Homo sapiens: one gene and its partner. The protein of the gene in region 1 interacts with the protein of each later gene in a biochemical or structural test. Each region holds a gene or a part of one and is shown in the gene's direction. Other genes may lie near its edges.

The links. Proteins that work in one complex are often made in the same cells at the same time.
Region 2: the proteins of RUNX1 (region 1) and ELF2 form a complex in vitro, tested with the Homo sapiens proteins (2 studies listed by BioGRID and IntAct).

The regions. Positions count from the first base shown.
Region 1 is NC_000021.9:35,046,286-35,053,684, reverse strand, and holds the start of RUNX1 (runt-related transcription factor 1), read left to right. Parts: upstream 1-4,382; 5' UTR 4,383-4,517; exon of another isoform or gene 4,518-4,726; 5' UTR 4,727-4,785; coding exon 4,786-4,843; intron 4,844-7,399.
Region 2 is NC_000004.12:139,174,208-139,182,225, reverse strand, and holds the start of ELF2 (ETS-related transcription factor Elf-2), read left to right. Parts: upstream 1-5,007; 5' UTR 5,008-5,259; intron 5,260-5,659; exon of another isoform or gene 5,660-5,721; intron 5,722-5,877; exon of another isoform or gene 5,878-6,071; intron 6,072-8,018. UniProt on the Homo sapiens protein: Isoform 1 transcriptionally activates the LYN and BLK promoters and acts synergistically with RUNX1 to transactivate the BLK promoter. Isoform 2 may function in repression of RUNX1-mediated transactivation.

The DNA.
Region 1 (7,399 bases):
GGCATGACCTCGGCAAGGCAGTGGCTGGAGAGCGGGGCCAGGCAACCCTCTGGGAGGGGGACAGCCCATGGCAGGACTGCAAGGCCACCTGCGACGCTGCCTGCCACGTGGACACGTGCTGTGTGTCTGGAAGAACTCACAGGATTAATGTGTTTCCAAACTGCAGACTAGGTGAAAACTGAGAGTCTGGTGCCCCCAGAGGAAAAAGCCTTCTGTTTATATACACATGGCCACCAGCTAGGCAGATGGAGCACAGGGAGAGCCTCCCTACATTGTGTGTCAAACCTCAGACTGTAAACTTGACCCAAACACGGCACTTGAGATGAGAGGTCCGAGTGACAATCCAAGAAAATGCTACCTTAGAGGACGTGGGCCTTGCCTCTTGTGGGTTTCTGCTGTCTAGAAACATCCAGGGCTTACAAAATTATGTCAGAGCAACAAAGTAGAAAAGTTTCAGAAAGCTCAAAGGAAGAAAAAGACATCTCAAAGAATGCAAACACCATGTTATTATTTCTCTACTAAATTCCAATAGATGCAAGGCTTTCCTCAGCAATGTTTCTCAAACTTTAATGTGTATAGAATCACCCGAGGAACTGTAAAAATACAGATTCTCATTCAGTAGGCCTGGGATACAGCCCGCAATGCAGAGTCTCAACAAGTTCCTGGGTGCCATCGACACTGCTCACCTGCAGTCTGCAAGCAGAGGAGGAAGCAGTTGAAACTCTTTCATTTGAAATAATTCTCCCTAGCTGCTCTTCATATCATTACATAACATTCAAGTGGCAGGTTGGTTTCAATGTCTGCCTTTTTTCTTTCTTTTTTCCTTTTGAAATCATATTTCCCCAACAATACCTCTTCATCTAGGAAAGGTTAAGAAGTAAATACTGAGGCCAGGCGCGGTGGCTCCCGCCTGTAATCCCAGCACTTTGGGAGGCCGAGGTGGGTGGATCACGAGGTCAGAAGATCAAGACCATCCTGGCTAACACGGTGAAACCCCGTCTCTACTAAAGATACAAAAAATTAGCCGGGCGTGGTGACGAGCACCTGTAGTCCCAGCTACTCGGGAGGCTGAGGCAGGAGAATGGCGTGAACCTGGGAGGCGGAGCTTGCAGTGAGCTGAGATCGCACCACTGCACTCCAGCCTGGGCGACAGAGCAAGACTGTGTCTCAAAAAAAATAAAGTCTTGGGTAGCTTAAATTTGAATTGCACCTTTATCTAAAGAAGTGAGAGGCCTGTGCGGAAGAGAGATGTGTCCTGTGTGGGCACCATCATGAGTGTCCAGGAAAGAACATCTTTAATAGCTGGGCTTCTAGGGCTCCCTAGCTGTCTCAAACCATTGGATTTGCCAAAAGCAGGTTATAGTCATCCCATGAAGCTTTGATGTCTACGTCCCAATTTAAAAATCATCCCTGACCTCACTGTCAGCATAGCATGGAAGTTTCTGGATAGGACATCTGTTAGAAAACAGATTTAGAAAATAAGGAAAATCCACGCTACATAGAGAAAATTCAGTAGCATTGTCCTCCTGGGATTTTAGACTCCATCCAATTTGGGTGGTCCATCTCTGCCTCCATTTTCTGGCCAGAGAATCTACTTTATAATAGACATGTGGAGTTCAGAGATAGCATGCGGCAATCATGTAATGAATATCCCTAACAGAGGGTGCTTTGATTGGATTGGACTGCACACAGAAGTCTATACATTAATTACAGGGTTATGCAGGTAAACATCTGTCAACCCTTTCTAGTATTTTCATAGGGCCATTAAAAAAGACACCTGAGCATTTTCTCCCCACCCCGCCCCCCCACCCATGGTGGCATTTAGAAGCTGCAGCCAATATGAGCGAGAATGAAAACTGTCATCCAATTCCTTGGCAAAGCCACAGTCCACTGCAGACTCTTGGGTACAATCCCCAAGCCAGAAACCCAGGGTCTGAGTCACTTGCAGGAACTAGGACAGAGGGTGTGGGTCAATACACAAACTTAAAGAGTCCTAAACCGTTCTAGTTAAGTTAGGATTAAGTATTTCTCCAGGCGGTTCATTGATGACAGACGTGCCCTTTTGTCTTGGGCTCCTAGGGAAGTGGTAAGGCCAAGTTCACCAGCAGCTGGCTGAGGCTTTACTTATTGTCATGACCTGGAGGGTGCCCAGAAAAGCTCCAACTGTTGCCTCACCAAGCTGCGAAGTTATGCTGCGGCTGCCGTGGCTGTTAACCCCGCCCAGGAAGGCCGTGCAGGGCCAGCGTGCAGGCCTTTGTATTCTGCCCCCTGGTGCCCTGTTGAAACCTCAGTCCCGAAGATGACAGCGTATAGTGAGGCTTCAACGAGCCCCAGCCTTAGAGTGTCTTTACACTCTAACCTGTCCTACAAAGACCCCACTGGAAGAAATAGATATCTGGCTAGAGCTAGGCCCAAAGAGAAAAGTTGAGAATTCAGGCCGTTCACTGCCTCATCCAAACCCTTCTCCTAAGCATCTGGACACCTAAGGCTAAAAGCATCTGGGGAGTTTCTAAAATTAAATCTCCCAAGGATATTCTGTATGGCCCCTTGAATTGCTAAGTCATTATTAAGTGTGAGTCGACTCTGCAGTGGCAGCTGCACATTACAGCCCTCGGCTCTTAGGGCCCTTCCAGGGAATATTAAGTGTGGGAGAGAAAAATGAACCTGGTTTGGGGTTCAACTCAGGCTTGACTTTATTAGGGAGGGTAACAACACAGGCCCATTATGTTCATTATGTTCACAGGGGATTTGCACTGAGAAGCAATATGAAACACGCATCACATTTAAAGATTCACGAGCCTCATAAAAGAGATGTAGCACTATTATTCTTTTTTAGATGTTAGCAGTGTCAACATGTGGCCAGCTAACTTCTCACAAGTGTAAGAGAAAGCGGTCTGTTGAGTTTCAATTCCTGCTTTAGTCAAAACAGGAGTAAGTAAAAATTGTGTCTGTTCCTTTTGAAAGACTTGTGCCATGGAAGCTACTATCGTTGTGGGTCTTTGTGTGTGTGAAATTAAGTGGATGAGGGAAAACCGAGGGAGTGTTGTGGGAGTTCAGCCTTTCTGAAGTGCCTGTGCTGGCTACTGCAGCTTAGAATCCAGGACTGGCATTTACAACCCATCATCACACAGGTTCTCTTGACCCTATGTGTCGAAATTTCACGTGCGCAGAGTGCTATGGCGGATGTAGGCAGAGCAGAGCCAAATGAATAAGGTAGTAAATCAGGAAAATAAGCCTTTCTTCATCTTGGAACTACAAAACAAAATGACGTTTTAGTTGTCAGCAGGTAAAGCCAGTGGGGCCGGAAAATGAAATACGTGTGACCACAGTGGTTTGCCCACTTACAAAATTATCCTGTTTTTAGCATCTTCAAACAGGCATGTCTTTCTAAGGTAGAGGACGCGCTATATAATATTCATTAGTCAGCCCCAGGAGAAGTGTCTCCTCCTGGTTCCCCTTCTATTGTGGCATCCTCATGTGCTCAAAGTGTAGTTTTACCTACAGGTGTAAATTAGCCTATTGATTTGAATTGAACTAGAGAAAGGCAATACAGGGAGCTTTCCCAAGTGACAATACAAATAAACATCTGCAGAGTAACCACTGCTTTGTCCCAAATACAGAAATTCTCTCTGCTTTGTTTTCCTTTAGCTTCCTAATTTGTGTGTGTGTGTGTGTGTGTGTGTGTGTGTGTGTGTGTGTTAAGACTGTACTATGATTTTATCTCTTTACTGAAAGAGATACATACTAAAGTTGTCCATTTAGGGGGAATAAAACCACATAATTTTGGTTTCATTAAAACAGTCCTTTTATTTCAAAAGTAAAATTCTTTCCCTTTCCCAGGCTTTAAAATACCTGTGAGTTGCCAGCCCGTTGTAGGGGTCAGACTCTCACCAAAACATTTCTTTTTATTTATTTTTCCCTTTTATAGTTTCACTTATGCCATGATAGACGTTACCAAGGACTTAACTCTCCCGGAGCTGATGCCTAGCATTTTAAATGATGGGATCCACATCCTGTCGGAGCAGCGGCTTGATGCCAGCGTTGAATTACTATTGAATAAGCAGCAATGAAATCTTTATCAAAATAATCAGTAGTTCCAAAAACCACAAATAACAACAGGAGCCGAGTTGTACTAAATCAGCAAAGACCATTGAGATATAATAAGTGACTGAGTCACTTTTTTCTACATCCCCCCCTCTTGCAAAGTCTACTCGGCTATTTTCTTGCACAGCCTGGGGGAGGGCAGGTGGAGGGAAGGAAGGGCATTGCTCAGAAAAGAAAAAAAAAAATTGACATCACTTAAGTCACATGATTGGCAAGAACCAATTGAGATGGGCTGTGGAAAGGGGAACAGTTAAATTTGTAATTTGGGTTGTGTGAAAACTTCTTTGGGCCTCATAAACAACCACAGAACCACAAGTTGGGTAGCCTGGCAGTGTCAGAAGTCTGAACCCAGCATAGTGGTCAGCAGGCAGGACGAATCACACTGAATGCAAACCACAGGGTTTCGCAGCGTGGTGAGCATCACCAACCCACAGCCAAGGCGGCGCTGGCTTTTTTTTTTTTTTTAATCTTTAACAATTTGAATATTTGTTTTTACAAAGGTGCATTTTTTAATAGGGCTTGGGGAGTCCCAGAGGTATCCAGCAGAGGGGAGAAGAAAGAGAGATGTAGGGCTAGAGGGGTGAGGCTGAAACAGTGACCTGTCTTGGTTTTCGCTCCGAAGGTAAAAGAAATCATTGAGTCCCCCGCCTTCAGAAGAGGGTGCATTTTCAGGAGGAAGCGATGGCTTCAGACAGCATATTTGAGTCATTTCCTTCGTACCCACAGTGCTTCATGAGAGGTGAGTACATGCTGGTCTTGTAATATCTACTTTTGCTCAGCTTTGCCTGTAATGAAATGGCAGCTTGTTTCACCTCGGTGCAGAGATGCCTCGGTGCCTGCCAGTTCCCTGTCTTGTTTGTGAGAGGAATTCAAACTGAGGCATATGATTACAAGTCTATTGGATTACTTACTAATCAGATGGAAGCTCTTCAGAAATGTTTTAATAAATACTTAGTTATGCTGTTGGAGTGTTCAGTCGGTGCGTGAGAACTTTGTCAAGTGCGAGTAAGTTGTGCTGGTCTTGTTTAAAGGCTTAGAGATTATGAAGCTTGCACGAAGCTCCCTGGGTTTTATTTTGCTGTCCCTTGCCCGGAATGCCTGTGTCTGAGTTATCCTTAACTCGGCATGCTGTGTGGCCCAGAATGCAGCCTGCCCTGGGGCTTAGCAGGCACATGCACAGAGCCAGCCAGGAGGGCTGGTGCCAGTGTGGGGCAGGAGGCGGAGGCTCTCAGATAGCCTTGCACCAGCCTGGGGACTTCAGGGCCAAAGTGGCAAGGCAGCTGTCTCTATAAGGCAGAGAGTACAGGAGACTGACAGACTTGGTTAGGTTAAAATCATCAGCATGGGGCTGTGCTGTGTTTTTCCTTGTAGCCTCAATGCAAAGAGACAACCAGCATCTTTCAAGAGAGAAAGGAAGCAAATTGTGGCATACCGAGGTCTCTCTGGAAAAGGGCAATAGAGAAGTTTCCCGAGTTAAGCATTCTCGCAGCTTAAGTCGTTAGATTACAGGCTTATGAATAGGAACAGCCAGGGTGGAAAACCTGTCTCCATTTTTGAAACCAGCCTCTTGAAATGGACAAAGCTGTGGTTGAGCTGTGAGTGTGTGAGTATGTGTGTGCATGTGCGTCTTGTGTATCTTTCGTGGTAAAAGAGGGCTGTGCTTAAACAAACAAAAATAATAACATAAAATGTCTCAAAGGCATTGCCGTGTGCGTCGGGGCACGCACTCTGACCAGTGCCTGCAAAGTGTATCTTGATGGTTTGGCAAAGCTGAGATGGAGTGGGCTGGGATGGGAGAATAATTAATTTTCTGGCTACAAACTCTCTTGAGCACCCAAATTGTATCTGTGACTCATTATTTATTCATACAGCTAAGTGAGCAGGGGAATGCAGAGGGCTTGCCGGCCACTTTATCACAGCAAATGCTATTGTGAATGCACGGGGCTGTATGTTTCCGGGTCCCTGAAATTAAAAAACTTGATGAGAGAGAGAGAGAGAGAGAGAGAGAGAGAGAGAGAGTGTGTGTGTGTGTGTGTGTGTGTGTGTGTGTGTGTGTGTGTGTGTGTTGGAGATGGCAAGAGAGAAGTTAAAGAGAAAGAGAAGAAAACAAGTCATTAACCAAGCTCAAGTTTCAAATTAAAGAGTTTTCAAGTGCTTCTTTACTGGCAGCAGAGGGAATTTTAGTGAAGTTGAATCATGCAGACGTGCGTTAGTCACTAGTCTTGCAGCGTCGTTTGGTTGGTAACACAGAGACACCGGCCACTGGTGAAAAGCTGCAAACGGCTCCCTGGCTGCATTTCCTCTGGGCTGCTAACAAGCAGAGGAAGCAATATTTGTATAGAATAACAGAAAAAAAAGATCTTCCTGGCTTTACTCTGCTTTCAGTACCCCCTCAGAACGTGTATTGTTTCCTATTTTATCAACTCAGGAAGGCAGATTCAGGAAATTTTTAAGCATTCCATTGAGCAATAGGTTGGGTTTCAGTGTGCAGTGCTGGCCCCTGGGGCTCTCCTTACTGGCCAACGGCAAAGATGGTGAGGGACACGCTGAGCTATGCAGACATCAGGAAATAGCAGGAGTCTGGCTATCTCCCGGACAAGCCCAGGGCTCCTGTGCCCGATGGACACTCAGCTGACCTGCGCTAGGTTAGGAACAAGGGTCGGTTAGCTTTCACGGAGGCAGTGTAGGGAGGGCCTGAGCTCGCACCAAGACTCAAAAGGGATCATCTGGAAAGGTTTTTCCACTCCTTCCTTTCAGTGAAAGGAACTCAGGGTTCTTTAGAATCTCTAATTTGGTAATATAATATTGAGATTTGATGTCAGAGGGCCAAGTGAAATCTTGGCAATTTCCTGGTTAATTTCATCCAAGTGATCCATCAACATAAAGGTTTAAATTGTCCAGGTTAACTGTCCACATCATTCACCCAAGCCGGAGAGGTAGCAAAATATCATTTCTTTTGATACCGTTTGGTCATCATCTTAGAGCTTGATGCTAGAAGAATCACCATCCCTGCCAACAAATGGCTCTCCCCCAGAGTTCTCAGCCTGTTGCCATAGCTGGGCCACTCGCAGTGGTCAATGCGGTCACTTCTGGCTGCCTATAATTTACAGCGTGTGTTCCCTCCCCAACGGCAACTGTGAGCCGAAAGGGAAGACAGCATCTTTGTTTTCTTCCTGGGATGGTACTTTATCAGTCCATGCAATTCTCACAGAAGGAAACCTGTAACTCATTTTTAGCCAGATACCCATGTGGAAATTGGGGGGAAAGAGAGGAGTGAAGCCAAGCAAACCATTGT
Region 2 (8,018 bases), on another chromosome or scaffold:
TCATCTCCTGGTATGAATGTCCTTGTGTAGTACTCTCCCACACTGAATTAGGATCAATCTGTGTGACCAAGAGAATACAACAGAAGTGATGGTATGTGACTCCAGAAGTTAGGTCAGAAAAGGCAGCATAGCTTCCACTATATTCTCTTGGACTTGGAATGTCATAAGGGACAATTACCTCATTTAATCAAACATAACTCGTACTTCCAAGGATTTGCCTGAGAATGTGAAGTTGAAAGGTTGGGAGAGGGAAATGACTTACTGGCCACTACTCAGAATTTTGTCTTCTCTTCTGTTCCTCATGTTGATTGTCACTGCCACCCCCATACTGAGCCCTAAAGTGTCATCCTACCATTTAATATTCTGATATAAAAGCAGGAAAATCTCTTCCTTTGGTTAGTCTATTATACTGAAGGCAGAATGAAATTTTATTTGTTTTATTTTGTTTATTTATTTTTGAGACAGGATCTCACTCTGTCACCCAGGCTGCAGTGGGGTGGTGAGAGCACAGCACGCTGCAACCTCAAACTCCTGGGCTCATGTGATCCTTCTGCCTCAGCCTCCCCAGTAGCTGGGACTACATATCCATACCACCACACCTGGCTAACTTTATTTTATTTTCTTTGTAGAGATGGGGTCTCAAACTATGTGATCCTCCTGCCCATGCTGGTCTTGAACTTCTGGGCTCAATGATCCTCCCACCTTGGCCTCTCAAAGTGCTGGGATTACAGATGTAGCCACAGCACCCAGCCAAGGATGAAATAATTTTAAAAAAAATCACTTTCCTATATATTGAAGAAAACAAAGGGAGAAATAACACAGAGAAAAGAAGTATAAAAGCATTATACCTAATATGCATATAATCATTTATATTTAGTATATAAATATATGTATATGTATATACATGCACAGAAAAAGGCCTAGAAGCTTAAAGGCTAAATTTTCATTTATGGTTATCTGTGGAAAAGTAGAGGTAGGGGATGGCTGCGTAAGTGTGAAGGGTAAGTGAGAAGTGGGAAGGGAAATGGAGAGGGAAGGTGAACTTGGGTTTTAAAAAGTTTATTTTGAATTATTTGAAAATTGATGATGAGAATGTATTAATGAATCATTGTATAATTAAAAAATAAACTATAATAAAAATAATTAAATAAAATATAAAAATAATTAAAAAATAAACTATATAACATAAAAAACTATATAACATAAAAAACAGCAAAAGCAATCCAGTTACAACAGAGATTTCCTATTCCATGATCATTAGCTTGCTACTAGGACTACTGGTCACACTAGACTTTTCCTTCTGACCCCTGTTCTCTAGAATGCTTTACTGTAAACCAGGGGTGTCCAATCTTTTGGCTTTCCAGGGCCACACTGGAAGAATTATTATCTTGGGCCACACATTAAATACACTAACACTAATGATAGCTGATGAGCTTAAAAAAAAAATCGCAAAAAAGTATTTTAAGAAAGTTTACAAATTTGTGTTGGGCTGCATTCAAAGCGGTCCAGGGCCGCATGCAGCCTGCAGGCCCTGGGTTGGACAAGCTTGCTGTAAAATTTCTGGGTTCCTTACTCCGCTGGCCTCCATAAGGGATGTGTTTAAGAACCATAGCCAAAGAGCTGCCTGAGACACACCAAGTTAGGCACCTTGCAGGCCAATATGAAGGAAGCAGATTGCTCTTTCTGCTGTTGTTTCAGTCAGCTATCACAACACTAATTCCAGGAACCAACTACTCCAAAACACTATTACTCCAAAACGCTATTACTCCAAAACACGGCTTGAAACAACAATCCTTTATTCTCTAGGTTGCTGACCCCAAGCTGGGACTGGCTTCAGACCTGCTTCATATTTCTTTGACCAGCAAACTAGCCAGGTATGTTCTTCACATTGTGAAAAACAAGAGTGCCAGAGAGGGAAGGAGAAACATGAAATACCTCTTGAGGCCAGGCTCAGAACTGTCACACTCACTTCTGCCTATCTTCCTTTGACCAAAAGCAAATGGACTGATCTAAGCTCAACATGAACAGGATGGAGAAACATCCTATCTCTACTGAGAGGAACTACAAAGCCGTATTTCAAATGGCATGCATGCATGGAGTAGTGAAAAATTGGGAACAATAATGTTATCTACCACTGTTATCCACCTGGGACTTTCCAGCTTACTGCCAATCGGCAGTGGGAGAGAATTTCTTCTCAACGTGGCTGACAACAGAAATTATGTGACTTGGCAGGTGATATCTGTCCCTAACAACAGGAATCAGTCTTTGTCTTTGCCGGCTCCTTAGTATGCTATGTTATGTTATGAAGATGCAATATTATTGATTATTAATTAATTCCTTACAAATATCAAATTGGGCAATGGTTCCCATAAGTGATAAGTTATTTACAAGAAGTGAGATAAAAAGACTCCCTTAGAAAGGGTGCTCTGTTTGCAGAATCCTGTTTATTGTGTATTAAAGATTTGAATGTTACCAAATTGTTACAAATTCTTTAGTTCAAAAGGGTGTCAACAGTCCCATGATTTAGAACTCAGGAATCCAGAAAACTTTGTCAAGAGTTAAGAGGATCTTTGATTAACAGTCACGGTCTCCAGGTTTCCTCTGTGTTCAAGAGTAAAAATTTCTTAAATAAGAATAAGAGCCCTCGGACTTGCTTTTTTTTGAGACGGAGTTTCGCTCTCGTTGCCCAGGCTAGAGTGCAATGGTGCGATCTGGGCTCACTGCAACCTCCGCCTCTCGGGTTCAAGCGATTCTCCTGCCTCAGCCTCCCGAGTAGCTGGAATTACAGGCACACACCACCACACCCGGCTAATTTTTTGTATTTTTAGTAGAGACGGGGTTTCACCGTGTTAGCCAGGATGGTCTTGAACTTCTGACCTCAGGTGATCCGCCCGCCTCGGCCTTCTAGAGTGCTGGGATTACAGGAGTGAGCCACCGCGCCCGGCCTTTTTTTTTTTTTTTTTTTTTTTTTGAGAAGGAGTCTTGCTCTGTCGCCCAGGCTGGAGTGTAGTGTTGCGATCTCGGCTCACTGCAACCTCTACCTCCGGGGTTCAAGCGATTCTCCTGCCTCCCGAGGAGCTGGGACTACAGGCGTGTGCCACCACGCCCAGCTAATTTTTGTATTTTTAGTGGAGACGGGGTTTCACCATGTTAGGCAGGCTGGTCTCGAACTCCTGACCTCAGGCAATCCACCCTCCAGGGCCTCCCAAAGTGCTGGGATTACAGGCGTGAGCCACTGCGCCCGGCCCAGAGTTGCTTTTTAAGAAAGGAAGAGAAGACTCACCCCCAAGAAAATAGAGGCAACAGCAGTATTAACAAAAGAAAGAGATCATTACATTCTTAGGCTCTTCAGGGATTTAAATCTGGAGCCTCCTGCAGCTTTCTGACATTTGAGCCTTACTCTAGGGTGATTTCCACGGTTCCCACGTCCCTTTCAAGAGAACAGCTATCACTTATATTCCTCAGTGTTTCTTCTTTGCTCCAGACTGGTTGTGAAGCCGTAAAAAGGGTAACGCTGGAGCCCAGAAATCAGCTGGTGAATACCGCGCCAGGTGCCAGGTCCATCGCGGCGAGGCTGCAGGAGCCCTGGAGGGGAGCAAAAGGAGCCCCGCGCGCACCGGACAGGCTGTGCTCTTTGTTAAAGAAACAAATACAGAAAACGCCGCGGCGGGGAATGGTGGTGGTGAAGAAATAGACTGAGGCGTTTGTATGCATTAACTGTGCCTACAAAGCCCATTAAAGAGACGCTCCTACACAGGGCAACCCACGGCACCGTGTCATTGGCTTTTGTGCACTTGAAGGCGCGTGAGAGTGCCCCGCTCGAAGGCTCCCCTTTGTGTGAAAGTGTGGAAACCAGAAGCGTGCAGCCACTGCTGGGTTTTCGTTTTCGAATTCGCAGGCACTTGGGCCAAAATACTCCCACACCAGAACACTCTCTCATTCTCGCACCAACAACACTCAGACTTGAGTTACTTCTCCGTTGCGGACCGCGCAAGGAGCGACAATGGCTAGGTGCGAGTGCCCGCAGCTCCCCGGGCAGCTCCAAGGGGCCGCCCGCCGCGCTCCGCAGCTGCGCGCTGGGCCCAGCCACCCGACAGCCAGCAAACGCCGGCACCAACCGCCGCGCGGCCGGGCTGTTGGGCGGGTGGTAATTTCTGGGAATGGGGCGGGGTCGCGGGTGTACTACGCCCGGCTTTTGCTAGCGGGGAGGAGGAGCTGGCGGCGCCGAGGGGCGCGAGGCTGGCGGGGCGGTGCGCCACGTGCGTCACCGGCCGGGGCGGGGCCGGCGTCGCGCTCCTGCCCGAACCCCCACCTTTCACTAAGCCAAGGCTGAGGAGTGGGAACTGGAAAGACCGGGCTAGGAGTTTTTGCAAAACCTCGCCCCCCTGTAACTGTCAGACTGCCCGACTGTGGGGCCGTCTCCGGAGAAGGGCGAGAGTCCTGAGTTGGGGATGCGGTGACGGCGGGGCCTGCGGGGGCCCTGAGTGGCGAGGGTGTGTGCGTGCGGTCCCGGCCGGCGGGGGAAAGCCGGCGGGCGCTGCAGGTGCACGCGCGGCCCCATCGGCCTCACACGCCTGCCCCGTGCGGCAGAGCCCCCTGCACCAATCCGGGGCTGGAGTGGAGAGCGAGATCGGGGAGCCCTGGGCAAGGAGCCGGACAAGTGACGAGCGTCTTTACCTGGGAAGGCGGGTTTGGGAGAAGTTGGGCGAGGAGAAGAGGGCGGGATTCAAGACAGCAAAAGAAGCAGGTTCGGCGGGCTGGTGGGGGCCCGAGGGCGGCGGGGCCCCGCGGGGTATAAATAGCCGGCCCGCGTTTGACAGGCGCTGCGGTGACTGGCGGTGCCGCCCCCGCCCCCCCGCCGCGTGGGGAGGGGAGGAGCACTCTGAGCTGGCGGGGAGGGGGAGGCGGACTCCAGTGTCCTGGTGGAGGCGGCAGGAGGCCGAGGGGGAGGAGCCGAGGCGGGGGGTGGAGGGAGGGGGCCGGGAGCGGAGCGGGGCGGGGGCAACCATTGCTCCCAGCGCCAAGCTCTGTGTCGCCGCCGTCGCCTAGGCGGTTGGGGGTCGGTGGGGCGGCGCGGGCGGGGGTCGCTGCGCGGGGCGGCGAGCCTCTGTTTTGTCTCCTTCTCTCCCTGTGGAGCGGCTCGGGCTGCTGGGGAGGCCCCGGCTCCCTCCGGACGCTCGGCCAACGGCGGCGGCTAGTCCGCGGCCCTGCTGAGAGGGAAAAGGACGCCGCGGTCTTCCCAGGCGTCGCGGAGAGCAGGTAAGAGCGCGGGCAGCCGAGGCTGGTGAGAGGGAGCGCGAAGGGCGCGGCGATAAAGCCTGGCTGTCCCGACTGCCGCCGCCTCCCTCCGCGCCCCCGCCCCGCGCTTGTGTTGTTTGCTTCGGGGTTTGCGGAGGGGTTTTCCGGCGGCTGCGGCGGTGACACCGGCCGGGGGCTGGGGGAAGGGGGCTGAGTGTCCCCAGGCAACGGTCGCGGAGCGGGACTTGGAGAAAGGGGAAGGCGCGCTGCGCGCCTGCCCGCGGGGAGCGCGGGGCGCGGGGCAGGGCTGAGGGAAGAGGTTACAGACCCCGGCGGGGGGGATGGGCCGAGCGCAGCTGGTCTCTCCGTGTTTACATCTCTGCGCGAGTCACCTCTGCCGAGAAGCGGACTGAACTGACCCGCCTCATCCCGCGGGGAGGCCAGGGCGGGGGTCCGGCTCCGGAGGAAGCGCGTCCTGGGAGGGTTTGTGTAGGGCGGGAGTCTGCGGCCGGCGCCGGGGCTGGGCGGCGAGCTCGGGGCGGGACCTGGGAGGCTCCGGCCGCTCTGGGTGGCGGGCAGGCGGGGGGGGGCGCTGGACACCAGTTTCCTTCCCTGTCGTGCCTTATCGCCGCCGCTTACCTTTCCTTCCCGGCGCTGCTAGCTTGCACGACAGGTTGTACTCGGCAGTTCTTTTATTCTCGCTCTCCACGCCGGCACCGTGCTGCCATCTCCCCCTATTCCCCGGGAGGTAGGGAGGCTTTGCTCGGATCGGAATCTGTTTCTTAAGCAAAACAAAAACGGGCTCGTAACAGGCACGTCCAGTGACCGCCTTCTGGATCCTCGCGAAGCTGGTCCTCAGGGACCGCGCGACGGGATGGTCTAGGGGCGCGGAAGGAGGACAGGGAGGGCTCTGCCAGGGCTGGATGCTGACTCTACCCCAGGAGCTTTGTGATCAGGGTAGCCGAGCCCTCTCTTCTGCTCCATTTGGGCATTTTTATTCCATGTCCATAAAGGACTCAAAAAATATTCCGTGACACCAAGAATAATCCAGATCGCACAGTTTCTAATCTTTTTCCCTCTGCCAGCATCCTGGATGGACTCTTTCTAGGAGGCAGATTCGCTGCAGAATAGCCTTTAAGTTTAGTACTTCATTAAATGAGGAAGAGGGGGACACGTCATTGTAAAACTGTTAAAAATTCCCCCCTTTCTTGTGTTCATGAACATTTACTTCAGCTTAATGGTTTAAATTGTAATCCGGTGATGAGAGAATAGTAATCGTGTGTTTGATAATCAGATTTGTTTTCCTTTTTATCTGTGATTCTCTATCCTGAAGTAAATTATGCACTTTCTTTGGTGCCAGAATCACGGAAGGATGTATGCTTTACTAAGAAAGGATTGGATATTTGTGTTTCAGAGTTTCTTCAAAAGGTAGAATGACTTATATAGGACTGGAAACCATTAAATTACATTTAAGGGAATTTAGGAATAATAAAACTTTTTATAGAGCATTACAGTTTACAGAGTACATTCATGTAAATATTATTGAGACGATATCTAGTAGTTAAACACATGAAATAGAAAATTGGAATATCCTGGGCATTTGAAGTTTGAATATTTATGTCAACCTATTTTTAAGTTTAGTGATTTAACTCATTGGATTTATCATTGCCTTTCATTTCAGACATAAATACTCATTTACAAAATAGTCAGCTTGAGTATGGTTGGAAAGAATTTGTAACTTTGGGATTTTTCTGTCCTAAGTAAACAGATTGGTACCTGTGGCCTGTAGGGTCTGCTAATGTTAGTGGCTTTACCTGCTCATGTTGTATACCATTTTTGGAGGAGTAACAGCTTCACGATGATATAATTCACATACTAGTCAGTTCAGTTTAAAGTGTACAGTTTGGTGGGTTTATTAATTTTTTAAAAAATTACTCCATTTTGCAGGTGAACAATTCAGTGGTTTTTACTACAATTGTCCATCGGTATCTGTTGGGGATTTGTTCTAGGGCCTTCCTCAGACACCAGAATCTATGGATGCTCAGGTCCCTAAAATAAAATGGCATAGTTGCTGGGTGCAGTGGCTTGTGCCTGTAATCCCAGTTATTCAGGAGGCTGAGGTGGGAGGATCTCTTGAGGCCAGAGTTTGGACACCAACCTGGGTGACAGAGCAAAATCCTGTCTCCTAGGAAAAATGAATAAAACTGACATAGTATTTGCATATAAACTCTGCATATTCTCTTGTATGCTTTAAATCATCTCCACATCACTCATACTACCTAATACAATGTGGATGCTATGTAAATAGTTGTTATACTGTGTATTGTTTAGGGAATAATGACCAGAAAAAAGTCTGTACATGTTCATTTACAGACATAATTTTTTTTTGAGTAGTTTCTGTACCTCATTGATTGAATCCATGTATTCAGAACTCATGGATATGGAGGGCCGACTGTATATTCAGAGTTGTGCAGCCATCACTATACTCAATTTTACAGCATTTTAATCATCCCCCAAAAGAGCCCCATATCCATTAACAGTCGCTTTTCATTTTCCCTCAGCACTCCCAGTCCTATGCAACCACTGATCGACTTTCTATCATTATAGATTAGACTGTTGTGGACATTTTATGTAAATGAAACCATAAATGCGGTCTTTTGTGACTGGCTTCTTTCGTTTAGCATAATGCTTTCAAAGTATATCCATGTTGTAATATGTGTCAGTACTTCATTTCTTTTTTTTTTAAAATCTATTTTCTTTCTTTCTTTTTTTTTTTTTTT